Homo sapiens: one gene and its partners. The main gene of each other region encodes a partner of the protein of the gene in region 2 in a complex. Each region holds a gene or a part of one and is shown on either strand. Other genes may lie near its edges. A codon is read from its position in the direction of its gene.

Region 1 (6,997 bases), on a different chromosome or scaffold from region 2:
ATTGTTAACAGTATTTAATTTGGCTGTTAATTAGATAAAATGAGAGCCACAGTAGAGATAAAGAAAAAATGTTCATGATAGTGAAAATTGTGGCAAGGGAGGACAAGAAAAGGAGAGGAAAGGAATTCCACATATGGAAGTAAAGAAATTCAAATATGCCTAACTCTAAAACTAACATGGATTATGACAAGCTACCAGTAGGAACTACTGTGTACCAGATATTGTGCCAAGAGTAGAAGGATGTGTTAACAAAACAAAAATGTTTGTTTTTAGGCAGTTCATAGGGCAAGACTCACAAGTAAGCATTTATAAGAGAATATGCATTCCATTTATTCTTATAAGTATGGGCCCTTAATACAACAGTAAGTATATTTACTGATTAATTGTAAGTGCAGGAGGAAAATAAGTATTAGAGAAAGCTGAAATTATTTTCAAAATAGTAATAACCTACAATAAGTGCAATTAGTACTTTAAAAAATTAACAAATTACTAAATTTAAGTAGACAAAATAATAGCTTTAAAGCCATTTACCTTAATATTCTTACAATAACATGCTCCCATATGAAACCCTCAAGTGGTATACCCAGAACTGTACATAATAGTTTCATTTCTGACAAAGGAAATGAGGTAGTGCAGCATAGTGAGCATCAGGAGACCTGAGTTCCCTGGTCCCTGCTCTGTCACTTCCAGGCCTTGGAACCTCAGGCAAGTTCAAGTTCTTAGAACTTCAGCAATAGGTAGAGTTGGATAAAGTGACCTCCAAGATACCACCCAGTTGAACAATTACAATCCTAAAGTATCAATGGTTCTTAATACTTAAAAAGGTTTTCTAAACATAAATCATTATCCAACTTAGATAAAGTCTGCAATCTTCTAACCATAAAGGATCATGGGGGTGAGGGTGAGGGGTGTGATAAAAAAATGTTTAAAAAAAAAAAAGAAACAAAATAAGGAAAGACATTAAACTCAAGACTAAATTTTTACTCAGCTGCCTACTGGGCAACTACCACCCCAATTATCTACATAATTCCCTTACCTAAAATTAATTTCTTCAGTAAGTTCTACTGTCTCTCTCTTACCTTTAAAGTTGCTGAGGTTTTAAGGTGAGAACAAGAAACCTTACAAGGACTTGGAATGGCAGTATTGATGTTGGGAGAAAAACTTGAACTTGGCACAGATTTCTGCTTAAGTGCACTAATTACATCTCAGAGAAAGGTAAAAAATTGTTCAAATTTATAACAGAAGGGAAATAAGATCATATTGTTTACTGCTATAAAGCTTTTTTATTTCGGTATGTAAATGTCTACTTTTGCACACAGTTGATAATTAAAATTTTACAGAACAAGTTTCTACATATGCAATGCTTCACTGTCACTAAAATATATGTTTTAGCTTTAACCATCAAGAAAATAAAAAATTAGAAGTATTATCATGTCTTTATAATATTTTTGCCAAATATCCTTCTAGATTTATATTTCTTCAATCCTTTCTAGTTGATCAAATTGCTGTTTTCATATTGCCAGTCTGATCACAAAATTGCTGCTTTACAGAAGAATATTTTTTGCTGACATAAATTATGGGATCAGAGATACCAATGCAGTTACAAAAAAAAAAAAAAGGGTGTGAGGGAGAGAGAGCGAGCGAAAGAGAGTGTGTGTATATGCATGTGTGCATCCATCTTCAAGGAAAGAATAAAGAAATGTATATATGAAACAAAATAACACTTTCCAATATAAGCCCTAGTAAAAGGCCTACATCAGAAACATACTTTCTAACATTTGTGAAATAAAATACAGCACTGAATTTTAAAGCTATGCACTAAGAACACATTATACAAAAATGAAGTGATTTTTATCAATATTGTTATTCCATAAACTTAAATCTGGATTTACCTTTCAATTTATAGCTAACTGAAATTAATATACTAACTATAAGTTCATGATTTCTTTGACTCATGAAAACATATTTTAGAAATTTGTGTACTTTTACATACAGTGGGCAATTTGGTTCAGAACCCCAAGAGAAATTGAGATGAAAAACTCATCTCAATTTACAACAGTAAATAAATAATTCAGCTAAAACTGAAAGTGGTACCAATCCAGCAAACTATTGATGGAGAGGTTTGGCCTTCCATGCAGCCAGAACAACATAAAGTTTTCAATGGGGATTACTTGTTCAGACAAGTTACAAAGATTACAAATATACCCAGATTAATTATAAAATAGCTAATATTCTCATCATATGGAAAATAAGTATCAGGAACGTATGTGGGAACAGACAATAGCAGTGGCATTTAAACTTTAAGCATTTTAGAGCTTTGGACTTTATATACTGATATATGAAACAGACATTTAACCAAAAAAAAAGCAATAATGCAAGTCAAAACCTAACCAAAGGCCTCTACCAACTAAAAATTTGAAATTTTCCATGGAAGTCAGACAAAACGAAAAAATGGAAAATGAAACCCTTAAAGCAAAAACCAATCAAGTCTTCCAACACTGAAGTCAATATCCAAATCTCATACAGGACCAAAAAGGGGAAAACACTCAGGTCTACAAATGGATAAGCAGTTCCAATACAATCCAGATCCCGACATTTTCCCACTCAGAAACAAATGCAGTGGAGCTTTTCCTGGAGAAAAAGAGCTCTCCAATGAATTTTTTTTAAGTGACATCTAGAAAGTGTGCCTCTTTCTGTCTCTTTCCCTGGCGCCTCATTGGAGGAAGGAGGGGGTTGTTTTTGTATTCTCCCCCACTGGAGCAAGACACAATCAGATGTTAGATGGAGGAGAGAAACCACTTTTGACAACAGCAAATAAAAATAAAAGTGCCCTTCCTCCCCTGACAGGATGGGCACCCCACCTCACACACCCCTCCCTACTCCAACCCCTCCTTCACCCCCCCCAGCACCACCCCCTCCTCACCCCGGAGCTCCACTGCGTATGTGGTTTGGTGCTACTGTTGCCCCGGAGTGAAAGTCAGAGCCAGAGGAAGGCAATGAAGCCCCCACAGACACACTTACCTTTCCTGCCCCCCACTTTTGAGTGCCTTCCCTGGAGCTGTGGAGGATGACACAAAGGGTAATAAAGGGGGGGAGTGGAGGAGGAGGAGGCGAAGGAGGAGGAGGAGAGCTGGGGAAGTGGCTGCTCCTGGGTGTAGTGAGATGTCTCCAGCCAGGGCCAAGCAGCAGCAGTAGCAGCAGCAGCAGTAGCAGCAGCAGCAGCAACAGCAGCAGCAGCAGCAACAGCAGCAGCAAAGGGTCTGTGTTGCTAAGAGGCTTTTGGTTTCTTTCTCTCCTCCTCTCACGGCCAAAGAGGAGGAGGGTGGAGGGAGGGAGGCGAGTTGGAGGGGTGAGGGGGTAGGAGTCGTGGATGGGGGTTTTCGAAGAAGAAGAAACTCCTTCTCCTCTCTCAGGCTCAATCCCCCTCTCAGGGCTCAGGGCTGGAGGGTGGGGGAAGGAACTCAGCCGCCTTCCCCCCACCCCCCTGAATTCAAGGTTGAAGTGGGGTAGAATTAGTGTCCTGTCCCTTTAAAAATAGAAATAAAAGGTGCCCCCCCTCTGCCACTGCCTCTCTCTTCATCATCAGCTGCTGCTGCTGCTGGGGTCTCTCTGCTTGGGGGGGAGGGGGGGTTCGGGTAGAAGAGACGGGAGGCACTCACTGCGCATGTCCCTCTCTGACGGGTGGCTGGTTGGTTGAAGGCAGGAGGAGGGGGAGGGGAGGAAATGAGCTATTTTCCCAGAAGGCGTCGAGGCGCTAGCGACCCGGAAGACATTGTAGCGGGAGGTACAGGAGCGGGGGCGGGGAGGAGGAGGAAGTCGCTACGCTTTTAACACCCCCAGCTCCCTCCTCCTTCCTAAGGGAAAGTGGAGGAACGGAAGTGGGCGTGGACGGAGACGAAAGGAGGTCACGTGTTTGGGCGGGAGAGGGGCGGGGTGGGAGAGGTAGTGCGTGCGCGGGGCATGCCGGGAGTGGTTGTGTACGGTCCGCAGCGGCAGGTGAAGTCTAGCAGAGGACGCGGCCAGGCGATTCGGTGAAGCGATTCCTGCAGGCGTTGGTTCCCCTCTTTGACCTGGTAAATGCAGGCTTTTATGCGAGAGGTAATGGTGGGGGTAAACTTGCTGCAAACGAAGGCCAGGGGCGTCGGTGGCGCAAGGTGAATCGAAAGTGGGAGGATGGAAGGCTGTGGAGATTGGGAATTGGGAAGGGGGCAGGCTTGTATAGGCCGGGAAGGCCAGGACCAGGCGAGCTCCGTCTTGTGGCCACTCCCGCCCCGTGAGCTTGCCGAGGAATCCTTGACAAGTGCAGGGATCCTGAGTCTACCTCTGCATCGGGGTAGTAGGTGAGGAGCGTGACGGTCCGAGTGTAAGAGAGAAGGGAACTGTGAAGCCTCAGCAATTGACCCTCATGACTGCAGGACGGAGGACTTCTATCTAGGGACAGAGACAAGTCCTCTGTATGCATTTTGACCAGATGCATCACACGCGTTGCTCATATTGGATATTGCGCCCTTCATGCCTTACCTCTCAACCCTCCCTGGTATTCTGGAGTGGCTTTGGGGAAGGAGCAGGCAGGGAAGTCTTGAGTGGAGCTTCCCTCCATGTCTTGCGTTGTTGCTACAACACAAAGCCTTTGCTTTTTCTCGGAGAGGGATGTGGGATTGTGTAGTCCTTAATGTTGAGTTCTACGATTGATGAAGGAGAAGGGACGTGATCAAAGTTTCCCCTTATAGTGTAGATGAGAGTTTTAAAAGGACTGTTTTGTCAAGTTTCTTTGGTTACTATTCTTAGTTTTTGAGCCTTTGGTTTCCCAAATGCCAGCTGTTTTTGCTGAAAATAATGAATTTCTATCATAAAATTAGAATTAACTCAAAATATTTAAGAAAGGATTTATAAATTTACATTAGTAAAGCTTTTATAGTGAAACAGTGCTGGTTCTTTTTCATTGTTTTCATACAATCAATATAAAGCATCACAGTCTCAATATGTTTTGTAAAGATATTTTGAAGGAATATCATCTTTGTATGTTTTTTAAAAACCAAGAATCTAAAATTCTTCGTATTTATTATGTTGGTACTTAATTCTGTTGGGTGGGTTCTTTTTGTTTGTTTTTTGTTTTGAGACGGAGTCTCGCTCTGTCTCCCAGACGAGTGCAGTGGCGCGATCTCGGCTCACTGCAACCTCTGTCTCCTGGGTTCAAGCAGTTCTCCTGCCTCACCCTCCCGAGTAGCTGAAACTACAGGCATGTGCCACCACGCCTGGCTAATTTTTTTGTGTTTTCAGTAGGGACGGGGTTTCACCATGTTGGTCAGGCTGGTCTCGATCTCTTGACCTCAAATGATCCTCCCGCCTCGGCCTCCCAAAGTGCTGGGATTACAGGCGTGAGCCACCGCGCCCGGCCGGTGTAGGTTCTTTAGGTGTACACTATCAGTTAAAGTTACTAATTTTCCACGTTTTGCTTTCTGTAAGTTTGGGCAGTGGACCCCGTTTATGCATCATTGCTTAGCCCTTAGTATCTTCTGTATTGTGTACGGTAATCATGTCCGATGGAATCAAAACTAGACTCCTGTGCTTTAAAATTTTCTTTGTAGTGTAACCAATTGTCTGTCTTTATAGTGTAACCAATTGTCTGCCACTTTGTAATGAAAAAAAAAAATACCAGCAAGGCAGTTAATGTGCCTTAGCTACAATTTTAAATATTTTGTGTCTTTTTCCATACATTTAGTATTTAAGCATACAAACATCGATACATAGTATAATGAAAAACTATAAAGTGTGAACTCTATGTAAGCGCTGCCACAGTCAAGAACTAGAACGTCTGTGGCACCTGAGAAGCTCCCCTCTCCATTCTATTCCTGATCATCCCTTTCCTCAATTCTTTTCAGTGGTTAACACTATACTGATTTTTATGGCAATCATTTACTGCTTTCTTTCTTAGTATTTCTTAACCACCTATGTCAGCATTCCTAAGCAATTTAGGTTCGTTTTGCCTGTTTCTTAATTGTATGTAAGTGGATTATATATTACATATCATTATGTATCTTTTTCTCTCATGCAGCTGGGATATAACTCTATTAGTACATTTAGCTCTAGTTCTTATATTGGATTGTAGTAATCTATAGTATAATAAGTATAGTATAAAAAGTCTTAATGGAAATGAGCCACAGTTTAGTCTAATATTAATAAACATTTGGATTGTGTTCCGTTTTTAGTAGTTATGAACAATGCTATTATGAATGTTCTTGTACATGTATTCTTAATGTACATTACCATGGGTTTTTGTAGAGTACGTATGTTTATCTTCAACTTCACTAGTTATGCCTTTTCCAAAGTAGATACACCAATGTATACCCCGACAGCAGTATATGGTAGATCCCTTTACTTTTACTGTCTCACCAAGAGTTATTTTTCCTTTTTCCCAACTTGATGAATGTGGCTTTATCTTATTGTTGTTTTAATTTATTCTGCCCAGGACACTAAAGAGTTTGAGCACTTTTTCAAAAACTTACCGGCTATTTGAATTTCCTCTTTCTAGAATTGTCTTTTTAATTCTTAAATCTTTTGTGCATTGTCTTTTTAAATCTTTTTGGGAGGTTTTTTTGTTTGTTTGTTTTTTGTTTTAATTGGGTTGTCTGTTTTACTCAGGGATTTCTAGCAGTATGGCCAATATCTTCTCTGTGCTTGGAGCATTACTCTCTTCTGGGATGGCAACTTTTATCTTCATGTAGGTCTTATAGGCTGTCATTGTTCTTTGAATTGTATACGTAGTTTAAACTCCAGATAACAAGTTCTATGCTTGTGCTATTCATTGCAGTAGCTACTAGCTGCGTGTGGCTTTTGAGCACTTGAAATGTGGCTAGTATGACTGAGGAACTGAATTTTTAGTTTTATTTAGTGTTCAATTAAGTTTAAAAACTGACACTTGATTCAGTTACTGTAAAACCTGTATGTTTGGAACAACTCGGATACATAAACCTTTCTTAACCGCAAATTATTAAAT
Region 2 (7,111 bases):
CAAAAAAAAACTATAAGCTATCCATCATGTATGACTTTAGAATTGGTAGAATAGACTAGGACCACTAACTTGGGGGTGATCTACCACTGGTCAAACAATAATATGAAACTAAACATAGCTGGGAAATTACCAGGACAGTTATTTGGCAAGCATTTATTCATTCCATATTCTGATTGCCTAATATGTATGTTAGCACTATTCCAAACATTGGAGAAACAATTATAAATAAAATACAGTTTGTGCTTGAAGGCACTCACAGTCTACTCAGGGAGACACACCCATAAACAACTACGATATACAATTAAAGTGACTTAAAACAATGCAAAATAAAGATGTTCAAGTACTGAGAGATCTCGAGGAAAGGAGAATTTCTGGCTAGAGAATTGTGAAAGGTTTCCTGAAGGAGATGAGTGTTGAGTCAAACTTTAATGGATAAATGAGTAGGCATTTATCAGATGAAGAGAAGTATGTAGAGTGAAACAGCTGCAATTATCTATTTACTACTAAGGTTATAGATACTTCGAGTTTAAATAAGTTTCGGGTTGGGAGAACATCACTATTTTCAACCTTTTTAATCTTCATTTTTATTTATTTATTTTTTGAGACAGAGCTTCGCTCTTTGTTGCCCAGGCTGGAGTGCAATGGCACGATCTCAGCCCACTGCAGCCTCCATCTCCAGGGTTCAAGTGATTCTTCTGTCTGAGCCTCCCGAGTAGCTGGGATTACAGGCTCACACCAACACGCCTGGCTAATTTTTGCATTTTTAGTAGAGACAGGATTTCACCATGTTGGCCAGGCTGGTCTCAAACTCCTGACCTTGTGATCCACCCGCCTTGGCCTCCCAGAGTGCTGGGATTACAGGCATGAGCCACTGTGCCCAGCCCATTTTAATGTGTAGTATTAATTCCTTTAAGTTTATGAAAATGGAACCTTTCTGGGCTTAAATTTAATCAGCTTTTATTTTCTTTGTCTACCTCTTAGATCAGGTGTCAAAGAGCAAAATCAAAAATGGGCATCTCATGGGAGGGAGGGGAGAGAGTAGATAGTCCCCCTTGTTGTTTTAGAATTTTCCTTCTATAGGTCAGAGAGAAGTGATGTGATTTCTTAGAACCTGAAAGAAATGTGTTCTCTCCCCTAACATCTTTTTTTAAAAAAGTGCTTACCCATAAAATATTTGGTTAATCAGATTTCTCTGCTCCTTGGCTACTTTGACTTTATGCTTTTCGTCTTTCTTTTTATAGGGTTGCTTTGTTTTTAAGCCAAACTCCAAAAAGAGAAAGATCTCTCTGCCAATAGGTAAGGTGTCTGAATATTAAATTTTTTATTCCCTACCTTCTTAAACTATTAGGAACTAACCCTAATTGAATTTAGTAATTCTCTTGTCTAACCTTGGCTTACTTGCCATGTTGATGTAGCATTTATGTTCCAAGGCATTGGTCAAAGAGATAAGAGGACACCCCAGGGCTCTAATTGAAAAGAGAATCCAATTACACCTTCCAAAGGTAAGTTGGAAGCAAATTTCCTTCAAAGGATATGCTGCTATTCTTTAAAAGAGATTGTCTTTTTGATTACTTCTCTGCCATTGTTTTTTTATCTACAACTTTAGAAATGAAAGTGAGTTTCTGCTAGAGAAACATTTTGATCCTTGATGAAGTAATCAAAACAATAAAGGCTGACTGGCAACCCAGATTTCTAATGATGGGGGAAATGTTATTTAGAAAATAAAATGATAATTGGTAACATAAGGAAAACCTAAGAAAGAATGATTATAAATTTGTATATATTTTCTAATGAAAATTGTATAAAAATTATTTTTGAGTTAAAATACAATATTCATGGGGAGACTTAAATATGCTTAAAAATTTTGATGTGATATTCCATTTTATGAATAAACTTGGCAAAATAAATTAAAGCAATCATCTATCTGTATGGAGCATTTTAGAACTTAGGGCTTAGTAACTACATGTGTGTTAGAATACTGCATGTTCTAACTTAGGGATAAATGCTGTGCACATCAATACATGCTGAGAAAAAAGCCCAAGGTCTTGGATCTCTTACAGTAATTCTACCTGCTAGAGCACAAAGTTATGGAATCACCTGGACTATAAGTAAAGGAATTGGAGTGTGATCCTGAGCCTGACCAGCTCTATGGCTTTGGCCCTGCTGTTTAACCTTTCCCTAAGTCTCTTCATCTGTAAAATGAGCAACTATACTCACTTATCACTAAGATTTCTCCCTATTCTCATTCTATCTCTCTAAGAGCTAACATGTAGTGCTTTGTAAGACTATCATAAATACCATGTGAATAAATTTGTGTTATTATGGATTGTTACCACCTTGGCCTTATAGTTTGTGTTCCAAGACTCCTATCTCTCACTAGCCTGAGGGAAGGGAAAAAGCTGAGAATGAGTAGCAGAAGACTTTCTACTCTCACAATGGCTACATATTTCCAAGTGGCCCAGATTTCCTCTCTTAGTCTTCACATCCTTTCTACCAGTTTGCACCCTCCATCATCTCTCGGAAGCACCAGGGTCCCACACAGTTCTCAATCACTCTTCATTTCATAAAACAAATTTGTTAAATTATTGAGTTTTAATCACTCATAGACACACATACTCATGATATTAAGGGAGTGGATTTTTATCACTCACTCAGACATACGCATACTCACACACTCATATACCCATGTGTGTAAGAGAGGAAAGACATTTCTTTTGGTTTTGTTTGTTGATTTATTTTAGAGACAGGGTCTCAGTCTGTCACCCAGGCTTCAGTTCGGCGGCCTGATCATAGCTCACTTCAGCCTTGAAAACTCCTGGGCTTAAATGATCCTCCCACCTCAGCCTCCCAAGTACCTGGGACTACAGGCATGCGCTACGACGCCTGGCTAATTATTTTTTAAAATTTTTTGTAGAGACAGGGTCTCACTTTGTTGCCCAGGTTGGTCCTGAATTCCAGGGCTCAAGTGATCCTCCCACCTCAGACCTCAAAGTGCTGGGATTACAGGTGTGAGCCACTGTGCCCAGCCTAATTTGTTTGTTTGTTTTTGTTTTTTTTTTTTGAGACGGAGTCTAGCTCTCAGCATGATCTCAGCTCACTGCAACCTCCGCCTCCCAGGTTCAAGCGATTCTCCTGCCTCAGTCTCCCGAGTAGCTGGGACTACAGGCATGCGCCACAATGCCTGGCTAATTTTTGTATTTTTTAGTAGAGATCGGGTTTCACTATGTTGGCCAGGCTGATCTCGAACTCCCGGCCTTGTGATCTGCCCACCTCAGCCTTCCAAAGTGCTAGGATTACAGGTGTGAGTCACTGTGCTCGGCTGTTTGTTTTTTTGTTGTTTTTTTTTTTTTAAGGCAAAAACAACACAGGTTGTGTTAAAGTCCCAGTGGTTTCCTGGGATGAAGTAGGGGGAATTAACTGCAAAAAGGCAAGAGGGAACTTTCTGGAGTGATGGAAATGTTCTCTGTTGACAGAGTGGTTATGTAAGTATATACCTGGGTCAAACTGTTAAAATGGTTGTGTTTAATTATTTGTAAATTATACCTCAATAAAATTCAATTAATAAAAAAAGATACTGTCTTCACTTTTTTCATTTATATCCTGATACCTGTTTAGTGATCAAATTAAGAAGACTTGACTTCTTCAATCAAATCCAGTATTACTATCAGAATGTATTTATTGCACCGGTTCTCAATCATAGCTTCACATTAGAATCATTTGGGGAACTTTGAAAAGTCTTATTTTAATATAATTGTAGATGCACATATAATTACAGGTAATACTCTTCCACCAGTAAGTACCCTACGACCAGTTATCCCCAGTGGCAGTATCTTACATAACTATAGTACAGTGTCACAATTAAGAAACTGATATTAATACAATCTAGTGACCTTATTCAATTCCAACTTGTGGGACTTTGAAAAAATGCAGGGTGAGAGTTCCTTATCCCAAATCTTGGGACCAGAAGTGTTTTGGTTATTGGAATTTTTTCAGATTTTGAAATATATACCTGTATATAATGAGATAATCTTGGGAATGAGACCCAAGTCTAAAAATAAAATTCATTCATGTTTCATATACACCTTAACCACATAGCCTGAAACGAATTTTACATAATATTTTAAATAATATTGTGCATGAAACAAAGTTTTGGCTGTGTTTTGACTGCGACCTGTCACTTGAGGTGAGATATGGAATTTTCCACTTGTGGCATCATGTTGGTACTCAAAAAGTTTCAGATTCTGGAGGATTTCAGATTTTTGGATTAGAGATGCTCAACCTGTGCCAATGCTAAGACCCTAACCCGGATCAATTGAATTAGAATCTCAAGAGTGGGGCCTAAGTGTTAGAATTTTTCAAAAGCTCCCCACAGGGTTATTGAGTATATACATTCCATATTCAGCACTGTGAAAATTAATTCCAGTGGAAAAATTATGATATGGAATTAAGCATACCCATGTACTAGTTTTGAATTGAAAAAATGAACTATGCCACTGTTTGACTAAGGAAATAAATGGATAACTTGAATATATAGAATAGGATTTTTTTTAAGTAATGATATATATATATACACACACACACACACACACACACACACACATATATATATAATTTTTTTTTAAAATAGAGATGGGATCTTACTATGTTGCCCAGGCTGGTCCTGAACTCCTGAGTTCAAGTGATCCTCCCACCTTGGCCTCCCAAAGTGCTGGGATTACAGGCGTGAGTCACCATGCCTGGCCACACATTTCTTTAATGTTGCAGATTGCTCAACTTACTAGAAATAGGTCAGAGAAAATTAAAGACTTGTTCCCCCATTATCATTAGGGACACATAGCATGCAGTGACATCTAATATCATCACCAATGTAATTATAACTAATACAGTTGTTAATATTTCTTGGATGTTTACAGTGTGCCAGACTGTTTTGTTTTTCAAGACAAGATCTCACTCTGTCACCCAGGCTGGAGTGCAGTGGCACAATCATAGTCCACTGCAAACTTGAGCTCCTGGGCTCCGGGAATCCTCCTGCCTTAGCCTCAGCTAGGACTACAGGCTCATGTCACCTTGCTTGCTAATTTATTTATTTTTTTTTTAAGGTGAGATCTCACTTTGTTGTCCAGGCTGGTCTCAAATCCTGAGCTCAAGCAGTCCACCTGCCTTGGCCTCCCAAAGCGCTGGGATTATAGACCCAGACTGTTTCAATCATTTTATATGTGTTAATTTGATTAATCCCCTCAGCAAACTACAAGGAATGTATTATCGCCATTGAAATATATAAGGATACTTAGACATATAACTTTCTCAATGTTATAATGTTAGTAAATGATAGAGCTAGGATTTGAACCCAACCTGTCTGATTCCAGAGCTCATGATTTAACCATAGCTTAATACTGCCTCTCATTATATAAGGCCAAGTTTCTATTTAGAACTTTTTGTATTGAATTTAAGCTACAACTTATTAGGATTGGTTTATAGTTTTTAGTACTAGTAAACCTGATGTGTATAATTGTATGATTTGAATTTTGCTTTAGAAGTTTGCTAGGCTTTTTTTTTTTTTTCATTATGTGGCTCTAAGACCAACGGGTAGTGTTATAATACGAAAATCTTTGAGGAATTGACCCTGATTATAAGGCAGATGGAGCAGGAATGAGGGAAACATACCCAGACTTTAACATTTGCCTTCACTGGCTTCAGTTGTTGAAACAGATTGACTGAAGAAGTAGGAAGATGCTCTGCATTTTGCCCACCATCTGTCCCCTGACTGAAGACACTTGGGCACGTAATTAAGACTGGTAACTCTCCCTCTCCTCAGTATTCTGTGGATGACTGCATATCCAGCAAAACAACTGGATAGGAACTGGAGAGAGAGAGACTGGCAGCAGCACTGGCACTGTAGGAGATACCCACACTGAAGTATAGCACTGTGAATAGGAGCCGAGGCAGGTAGAAACCTGGCAACAGTGAGAGCTTATATTCTTCAGTGTAGTTTTTAAATTTACCTACCTGATCTGTAACAGACTGAGAGAAGTCATGGTAACAGTTTAAAGTATCCTACTGCTGTGTTTCCCAGTTTCTAAGAGGTTTTTCATGTGTATTTTGATGCGGCATTATTCTGCACATAAAAATTGTGTCTTGATTTGCCACTTTCATGTTATGCTATGATTTTACCTATTAATGTAAAGTGACTATTTTTGTTCTTTTTAAAGCTACCTTGTTGTTCTGCTTTGTCTCTTTTTTTTATTATTTATTTATTTATTTATTTATTTATTTTGAGGCAAGGTTTTGCTCTGTCGCCCAGGCTGGAGTGTAGTGGCACAATTTCAGCTCACTGCAACCTCTGCCTCCCAGGTTCAGGTGATTCTCCTGCCTCAGCCTCCTGAGTACCTGGGACTACAGGTGTATGCCACCACGCCCGGCTAATTTTTGTATTTTTAGCAGAGATGGGGTTTCACCATGTTGGCCAGGGTGGTCTCCAAGTCCTGAGCTAATGAACCGCCCACCTTGGCCTCCCAAAGCGCTGGGATTACAGGCATGTGCCACCACGCTGGCCTGCTTTGTCTCTTAATAATAGTGTCCTCTGGCTAGGTGGGGTGATGTACGCCTGTAATACCAGCACTTTGGGAGGCCAAGGTGGGCAGATCACTTGAGGTCAGGTGTTCAAGACCAGCCTGGCCAATGTGGTGAAACCCCGTCTCTGCTAAAAATATAATTAGCCAGATGTGGTCGCGGGCGCCTGTAGTCCCAGCTACTCGGGAGGCTGAGGCAGGAGAATCACTTGGACCTGGGAGGCGGAGGTTGCAGTAAGCTGAGATCTCACCACTTCACTCCAGCCTGGGCAACAGAGCGAGACCCTGTCTCAAATAATAGTAATAGTAATAATAGTGTCTCCTTGCTTTCTTTTTTTGTTGGCATTTTAATTCTATAACCTTGTCTGCCACTTTACCGTACGATGACTTCAATGTATTCCAAGGCTTTTGATAAAATTAAAAATCAATAGTTGCTAAAAACTCTGAGTTAACTATGATTAGGAGAGAAGTTCCTTAACATGAAGTGAATTTATATTCCAAACTATCAGTTAACATTAAAACTTGGTGGTAGATTATTAGCA
Region 3 (7,111 bases), on a different chromosome or scaffold from region 2:
TATCAAGGGAGTGGGTTATTGAGAGAATGGCTTTATTATAAAAGGGACTTCTGCCACCTCTTGCTCTCACTCTCATCCTCTCTTGTACTTCTACTTTCATCATGAGAGGAGGCAGCAAGAAAGCCCTTGCCAGATGCAGGGACCTCAACCTTTGACTTCCTAACCTCCACAACTGTGAGAAATAAATGTCTTTTCTTTATAAATTACCCAGTCCTTGGTAGTCTGTTATAGCAACTGAGTAATAGGCAGAGGTTGGAACAGGATGGAGGGCTCAGAAGACAGGAAGAAATGGGAAAGTTTGCAACTTCCTAGAGACTTGTTAGATGGCTTTGACCAAAATGTTGATAGTGATATGGACAATGAAGTACAGACTGAGGTGGTCATAGATGGACATGAGGAACTAATTGGGGACAGGGAATAAAAGTGACTCTTGCTATGCTCTAGCAAAGAGAAGGGTGGCATTTTGCCCCTGCCCTAGAGATCTGTGGAACTTTGAACTTGAGAAAGATGATTTAGGGTATCTGGTGGAAGAAATTTCTAAGCAGCAAAGCATTCAACAGGTGACCTGGCTGATTCTGAAAGCATTCAGTCATATGCATTCACAAAGAGATTATCTAAAACTGGAACTTACATTTAAAAGGGAAGCAGAGCATAAAACTTTGGAAAATCTGTGGCCAGACCATGAGGTAGAAAAGAAAAAACCCATTTTCTGGGGAGAAATTCAAGCCAGCTGCAGAAATGTGCATAAGTAACAAGGAGCCAAATGTTAACAGCCAAGACAACGGGGAAAATGTCTCCAAGGTCTTCACGTGGCAGCCCATCCCATTACAGGCCCAGAGGCCTAAGAGGGAAAAATGGTTTTGTGGGCCAGGGCCTTGCTGCTTTGTGCAGTCTCGGAACTTGGTGTCCTGCATCCCCACTCATGGCTAAAAGGGGCCAGCGTATAGCTCAGGCTGTTGCTTCAGAGAGTGCAAGCCCCAAGCCTTGGCGGCTTACATGTGGGGCCTGCAGGTGCACAGCAATCAAGAATTAACGTTTGGGAACCTCTGCCTAGATTTCAGAGGATGTACAGAAATGCCTGGATGTCCAGGCAGAAGTTGGCTGTAGGTGCAGGGCCCTCATGGAGAACCTCTACTAGGGCAGTACAGAAGGGGAATGTGGGGTTGGACCCCCCCTACAGAGTCCCCACTGGGCACTGCCTAGTGGAGCTATGAGAAGAGGGCCACCATCCTCCAGACCCCAGAATGGCAGATTCAACAGCTTGCACTGTGTGCATGGAAAAGCCACAGATACTCAACGCCAGCCTGTGAAAACAGCAGAGAGGGCAACTGTACCCCGCAAAGCCACAGAGGTGGAGCTGCACAAGGCCATGGGAGCCCACTCTTGCATCAGTGGGCTGGATGTGAGGCATGGAGCCACAGAGGTCGAGCTGCATGAGGCTGTGGGAGCCCACTCTTGCATCAGTGGGCTGGATGTGAGGCATGGAGTCAAAGGAGATCATTTTGGAACTTTAAAGTTTAATGACTGCCTTATTGGATTGCAGACTTTCTTGGGGCCTACAGCCCCTTTGTTTGGGCCAATTTCTCCCATTTGAAAAGGCTGTATTTACCCATTGCCTGTATCTCCATTGTATCTAGAAAGTAACTAACTTACTTTTGATTTTATAGGCTCATAGGTGGAAGGGACTTGCCTTATCTCAGATGAGACTTTGGACTTGGACTTTTGGGCTAATTAAGCTGGAATGAGTTAAGACTTTGGGGGACTATTGGGAAGCCACAGTTGACTTTGAAATGTGAAACCGACATGAGATTTGGGAGAGGCCAAGTGTGGAATGGTGTGGTCAGGCTTTGTGTCCCCATCCAAATCTCATCTTAACTTGTAATCTCCATAATCTCCATGTGTCAAGGGAGAGACCAGGTGGAGGTAAATGAATCTTGGGGGTGGTTCCCCCATGCTGTTCTTGTGATAGTGAGCTCACATCTGATCTGACGATTTTATAAGGAGCTTCTCCTTCCTTCTACTTTGTGAAGCAGGTGCCTTGCTTCCCCTTTGCCTTCTGCTGATTATAAGTTTCCTGAGGCCTCCCCAGCCACGCTGAACTGTAAGTCAATTAAATCTCTTTCCTTTATAAACTATCCAGTCTTGGGTAGTTCTTATCCAATTCCAAAGATGATCATTTTAACATGTCTTCAGAGTAACCAGGCATATTTGTTGCTCTAAAGTCTTTACTATCTCCTATCCACTCCCTAAGAAATTAAATGAAGTGCTTTAGTATAGTTTTCTAGACCTTCCACAATCTGCCCAACCTATCTTCCAGTCTTCTTTTTCTCCCGTCATACTTTATAACCCACTAAAACTAGACTATTTGGTACTCTCTGGCCTCCATTTTCAGCTGCATGCCTTTACTTATATAATTCTATCTGAAATTCCTCTACTTCAATTTCTTCCTAGAATACTCTGATTCATTTAGGTCTGTCTCAAATGCTAATACCTCATGAAGCTGTATTGGACACACACAGTCAATATTTTGCATCTGGTGACAATCACTTATCACATTCTGCATGTAGTCGTATGTATGTGTCATACCTTTTCTATTAAATGAAGCTTCCCTTGGATAAGGAATATATTTAATACATTTCTGTATACTAAAAGCACCTGGCACAGAGCACTGTACATAATGAGACTCAAAACAAATATATGAAAATTGATCTAATAAATTATCAGTTTTCAAGATAAGAGATGATCTAATCAAATGAAATTACTTACAATATATACAGTCTGATCTTTAAGATTTTCAGCTGTGGTTACTTGTTTAAACAAGCGAACAAAGTCATTAAATGTTTCACAGGTTATTTCAGTAGAACATCCATCCTCTGAAGAACTAAGATGATTCAATTTGTTTAAAATTTGTTCCAAAAGCAGCCTCAATGTAAAGCATTCAACACAATTCACAAACACATGTGGGAGCTGAAAACGAAAACCAAAACACTGTAAGTAAAGAAGAAAACACACAAACACAATAATGGCTGTGCTGGATAGTCTCCATTTGCCTTTCTAAATCTATATCCCACCAAACCCACCCCATGCCCCAAGAGCCTGACAGCTACAGAATTACATCACCTGGACTCTCTTATTTTCTGTCTCTGGATGGAGAAGCCAATGGAAAGAACCAGCAGGAGACTAAGGGAGAATGGTGGGAGAGAAGTTTGGATATTGATTTCCTTGACTCCCACCATGACCCCTCAGTGGCCCTAGCTTGGCAGTGGATACTCTTCTACCAAAGATCAAGTTGGACAGCCCCTCTTCTAAGGCTACACCTCTTGTTTGGTTCCAATAACAGCTCCTTTCTATGGTCCCTTCAGGCCTGGAGGTGGTAAAGGCCCTGGTGTACCATCATCCCTTAGTGATTCCCATAAAATTTCCATTATAAAACTGTCCCTTCATTAAACTCACTTCAATTATTTCTTTCAGCTTGCCATTTCTTTCTTATGGAAATTCAAAGCAAATTTGTATTTTCCTATAAAGAATTCTTATAAAGAAATCAGCCAGGCATGGTGGATCATGTCTGTAATCCCAAGGCTTTGGGTCAGGAGTTCCAGACCAGCCTGGGCAACATAGCGAGACCCTGTCACTATTAAAAAAAAAAAAAAAAGAAAAGAAATCTAAGCATATTTGAATGTTAAAAATCTTAATAGGAATTTCACACTTATAACTTTAATATAATATCCTTGAATAAACGTTTACTAAGTCAAAAAAAAAAAGAATTTTAAGAGTTAGAAACCATAGCAATCCTCCTACGAGGACTGTAAGCACTAGCTCTTTGCTAGGCATATGGCTCCTGCCTGTAATCCCAGTGCTTTAGGATGGGTGGGAGGATCATTTGACCCCTGGAGTTCAAGATCAGCCTGGGAAACACAGTGAGACTCTGTCTTTAAAAAAGTAAAAAAAATTAGACAGGCCTGGTGGTGCACATCTATAGTCCCAGCTACTTGGGAGGCTGAGGTGGAAGTATCACTTGAGCCCAGGAATTCATGGCTGCAATGAGCTATGATCATAACACTGCACTCCAACCTGGGCAATAGAGCAAGACCCCATTTAAAAACAAAACAAAACAAAAAAAACTAGCCCTTCATTTAAAAAACTATCAAAATATCAACATGAGTTAACTCCAGAAGTAATAAGGTCACAAACGAGACTTGCTCACCAATACAGTCTATCCTCAAAATAAGATCACAAAAGCAGATTCATTCTGAGGAAGATAACTTGTGGCACTTGGCACAAATAATGGAACTGGTAACTATTTTTAGTGATTTTATAAACTTTATCCAATAAGGAGGCTTTTCTTTCTCTGAATAACAGTGTCACTAAAGCCACATTAAACTTACTTGGGGACAGTTTCACCAGCATTTGCTAACTCACTTCTCTCTCACTCCTTTACTGTCCTTTAAGAACAAAAGTCCACAACATCTCTGTTATGAATAGTGTCTTGCTTACGGCATTTGTACCATCCATGACTTTTAAAGGCAGCATATTCTAAGTGCCTGTCTGAGTCCCTGTATCAGAAGTAGTAACAATAATCATATATTACACTGATTAAGTAACAGCAGAAACTACAGTGTGATAAAAAATGGAATACAGTCCTTAAATATGAAACTTCCTTACTGGGTTTTATTGCTTTTATTCAACATATATTTTGGGGGCACTTCATTCAGGGGGTTCTGAAATGCAAATGCCTGGACCAAGACCTTGTACACTCAGATTCTGAAGTCCAGTATATAGCCCAGGCATATGTGTTTTTTAAAATGCACAGCTGATCTTTGAGATCAAAAGCTGAAATCTACAACTTAATAAGCTGAAATCCACAAGTTAATACGTGCCAAGTAATGTGCTTGGTGCTGGGGATAATTTCAAGAAACTCACAATCTAAAGCCAGGGAAACATAAACACAAAATCATAGCTGAGAAGGCTAAATATTATGACAGAATTAAGCACAGGGTGCTAAGGTTGCAAAACAGGGGGGCATCTGATACAGCCTAGAGGATCAGGAAAGACCTTGTAGAGTATAAGTAGAAGAAAACCTGGCAAAATAAATAAGCATTTGCCAAGCAACAGGAAGAGCGAGTACAGGAAAGCCATTCCAAGTAGGGGAGCAACATGTGCCATGGCTTGAAAGTAAGACAGCAGGAACTGTACACAGTTCAGTATGCTATCCTAAACGTGCATCCTCAGTGCTAGAGGAGGACGGGGTTAGCAAGCCAAAGCCTGTGGGCTAGCCACCTGTTTTTGTACATACTGTTGCTTTGAAACACAGTCATGCCCATTCACATAGAGAATGCCCATGGCTGCTTTCACAATACAGTAGAGTCAAGCAGGTGAGACAGAAACTACGTGGTCCACAAGCACAAAATGTTAGTTATCCGGCCCTTAAGAAAAAGACTGCCCATCTCTGGTTTAGGATATGAAAGGGAGTATGGCAATACTCATCAATAATAGCAGCTAACCTTTATTGAGTGCTTACTACGCACTATGTACTGCAGAAAGCACTTTCCATGTGCTAACATTTAATTCTCTTAATCCCAAATGTTGTCACTATGAGCCAACTTTGCAGATGGAGAAAGCACTAACTGGTGAATCCAAAAAGGAACATGAGTCTGCCAGACTCCACAGCCCAAACTCTTAACCACTGTGTTATGAAAGATAAATTCAGCTCATGAAAGGTCTTATACAATGGGCGAATTACTTGAACACTGTCCTGAAAATATTAAGATTTGCATGGCCTAGCTGCTGGGTGAAGATTGCAAATAAGAGGCTTACAGAAATACATGGAAAAAAAACAATGGTAAATGAAAATCCTAGCAGCAATGGCTAGGATTAAAGGTAGATGGAGACATGATTTTAACAATGTGAAGCAACAGACTAAGTTTATTGATGTGATTTACTAAATGAGGGAAGATGAGGAAAGAGTTAAGAAAGTGCAAGTTTGGACAACTGTGTCAATGACAGTAGACCATTCATGGAGAAAGATAATATGGGAAGGAGAGTAATGTAAAGGTGGTATGTTCAATTTTGCATTTGTGGAGATTCACAATTATCAGTACCAATATTATACACTAAAAATGGCAAAGAAATATTTAATATTTTTATTCTTACCTCTAAAGTTTTCAACAACGTTTGTGTTACATAGGTCTTTCCACTAGCAGTATGTCCATAAATAAAAATGGATGGAAAGCTGAAATGATGTCTCTAACGAGAGAAAAGACAAATATGAGGCTGCACATACAAAATAGAAAATAAACACTTATCAACTTGTGAGAAAGTTGTACGTGGAAAAGTGAAATATTCAATCCAAATTCCTAACAATGAGCATATTGTGGATGCATCAACACACTTTGAACCTACTTGAATTCAACTCTAAGCACTTTCTTTGTTATGAAATTAAAATGTATGTAACATATTTGGCATATTTTATTATGTACTATATATTTATATTTTTATTATCGTACAGGTTTACATATACAAACTAGTATTTTCAACTTCATAGCAGATTTAAGAGATTTTTCAAGGATAATTTTGTTCATACTCCATTTTTATATTACTCCTTCTTAAAGACTCTTATCTCCTGCGATGCCACAACTTCACTATACATTTTAATGCTATGAAATAAAGTACATATAATCAAAAGATTAAAAGGAATTTCAAGGGTCCTCATTCTTAGGAAAACTTATAGACTACTTCTGAACTATGCATACTCACTGATGCTGGCATAAATGCATACATTAGATCACATAAAACACTAATAAAATCTGCATAGCATTTATTTTAAAATACATATGTGCAAGATCCTCTTGCAGTACATTAGGTTAGCAGCTTAGAGAAAAGTAAATATTGTCAAAGGTCTCTCTGGTCTAGTTAATACTACAAATACTTGTACTTCATTCCTTAAATGAACGCTTTCATTAGATACCTACTAAATGCTGAAAACCATGAGGTACTGAAGAGAACAAATAACAGTAAAAGACATTATCTACTTTGGAGGAAATTATAGTCTACATTTTTAAAATAATTACGGGAAAACTTGATTTTTTAATAATACTCTTTTTTTTTTTTTTTT

The links.
Region 1: the proteins of ORC3 (region 2) and ORC4 are in contact, whole or in part, in a cryo-EM structure (PDB 7JPO), measured with the Homo sapiens proteins. Residues at the interface, in NP_036513.2 of Homo sapiens: Thr227, His260, Arg261, Leu262, Leu263, Pro264, His265, Ala266, Ser269; in NP_001177808.1 of Homo sapiens: Pro370, Lys374, Glu377, Gln381, Ser392, Gly393, Asn394, Ser395, Gln396, Arg397.
Region 3: the proteins of ORC3 (region 2) and ORC5 are in contact, whole or in part, in a cryo-EM structure (PDB 7JPO), measured with the Homo sapiens proteins. Residues at the interface, in NP_036513.2 of Homo sapiens: Glu99, Val109, Met144, Lys145, Leu148, His178, Ser180, Met181, Asp182, Glu223, Asp232, Ile235, Ile236, Gln239, His240, Ala253, Thr254, Ser255, Pro256, Ile257, Ile258, Ile259, Arg261, His265, Ser269, Cys272, Ile273, Glu274, Leu275, Ser280; in NP_002544.1 of Homo sapiens: Asn62 (codon at 2,949), Val64 (codon at 2,943), Glu65 (codon at 2,940), Phe67 (codon at 2,934), Thr68 (codon at 2,931), Arg70 (codon at 2,925), Leu71 (codon at 2,922), Gln75 (codon at 2,910), Tyr129, Leu270, Arg271, Ser274, Ser275, Ser276, Gln277, Leu294, His297, Thr298, His299, Val300, Glu301, Leu302, Pro303, Tyr304, Tyr305, Ser306, Asp360, Tyr367, Arg373, Pro376.

What each region holds. Positions count from the first base shown.
Region 1 is NC_000002.12:148,017,709-148,024,705, reverse strand, and holds the start of ORC4 (origin recognition complex subunit 4), read left to right. Parts: upstream 1-3,968; 5' UTR 3,969-4,073; exon of another isoform or gene 4,074-4,098; intron 4,099-6,997. UniProt on the Homo sapiens protein: Component of the origin recognition complex (ORC) that binds origins of replication. DNA-binding is ATP-dependent. The specific DNA sequences that define origins of replication have not been identified yet.
Region 2 is NC_000006.12:87,593,112-87,600,222, forward strand, and holds part of ORC3 (origin recognition complex subunit 3), read left to right. Parts: intron 1-1,239; exon of another isoform or gene 1,240-1,241; coding exon 1,242-1,296; intron 1,297-1,415; exon of another isoform or gene 1,416-1,502; intron 1,503-7,111. UniProt on the Homo sapiens protein: Component of the origin recognition complex (ORC) that binds origins of replication. DNA-binding is ATP-dependent. The specific DNA sequences that define origins of replication have not been identified yet.
Region 3 is NC_000007.14:104,197,992-104,205,102, forward strand, and holds part of ORC5 (origin recognition complex subunit 5), read right to left. Parts: intron 6,244-7,111; coding exon 6,151-6,243; intron 2,968-6,150; coding exon 2,767-2,967; intron 1-2,766. UniProt on the Homo sapiens protein: Component of the origin recognition complex (ORC) that binds origins of replication. DNA-binding is ATP-dependent. The specific DNA sequences that define origins of replication have not been identified yet.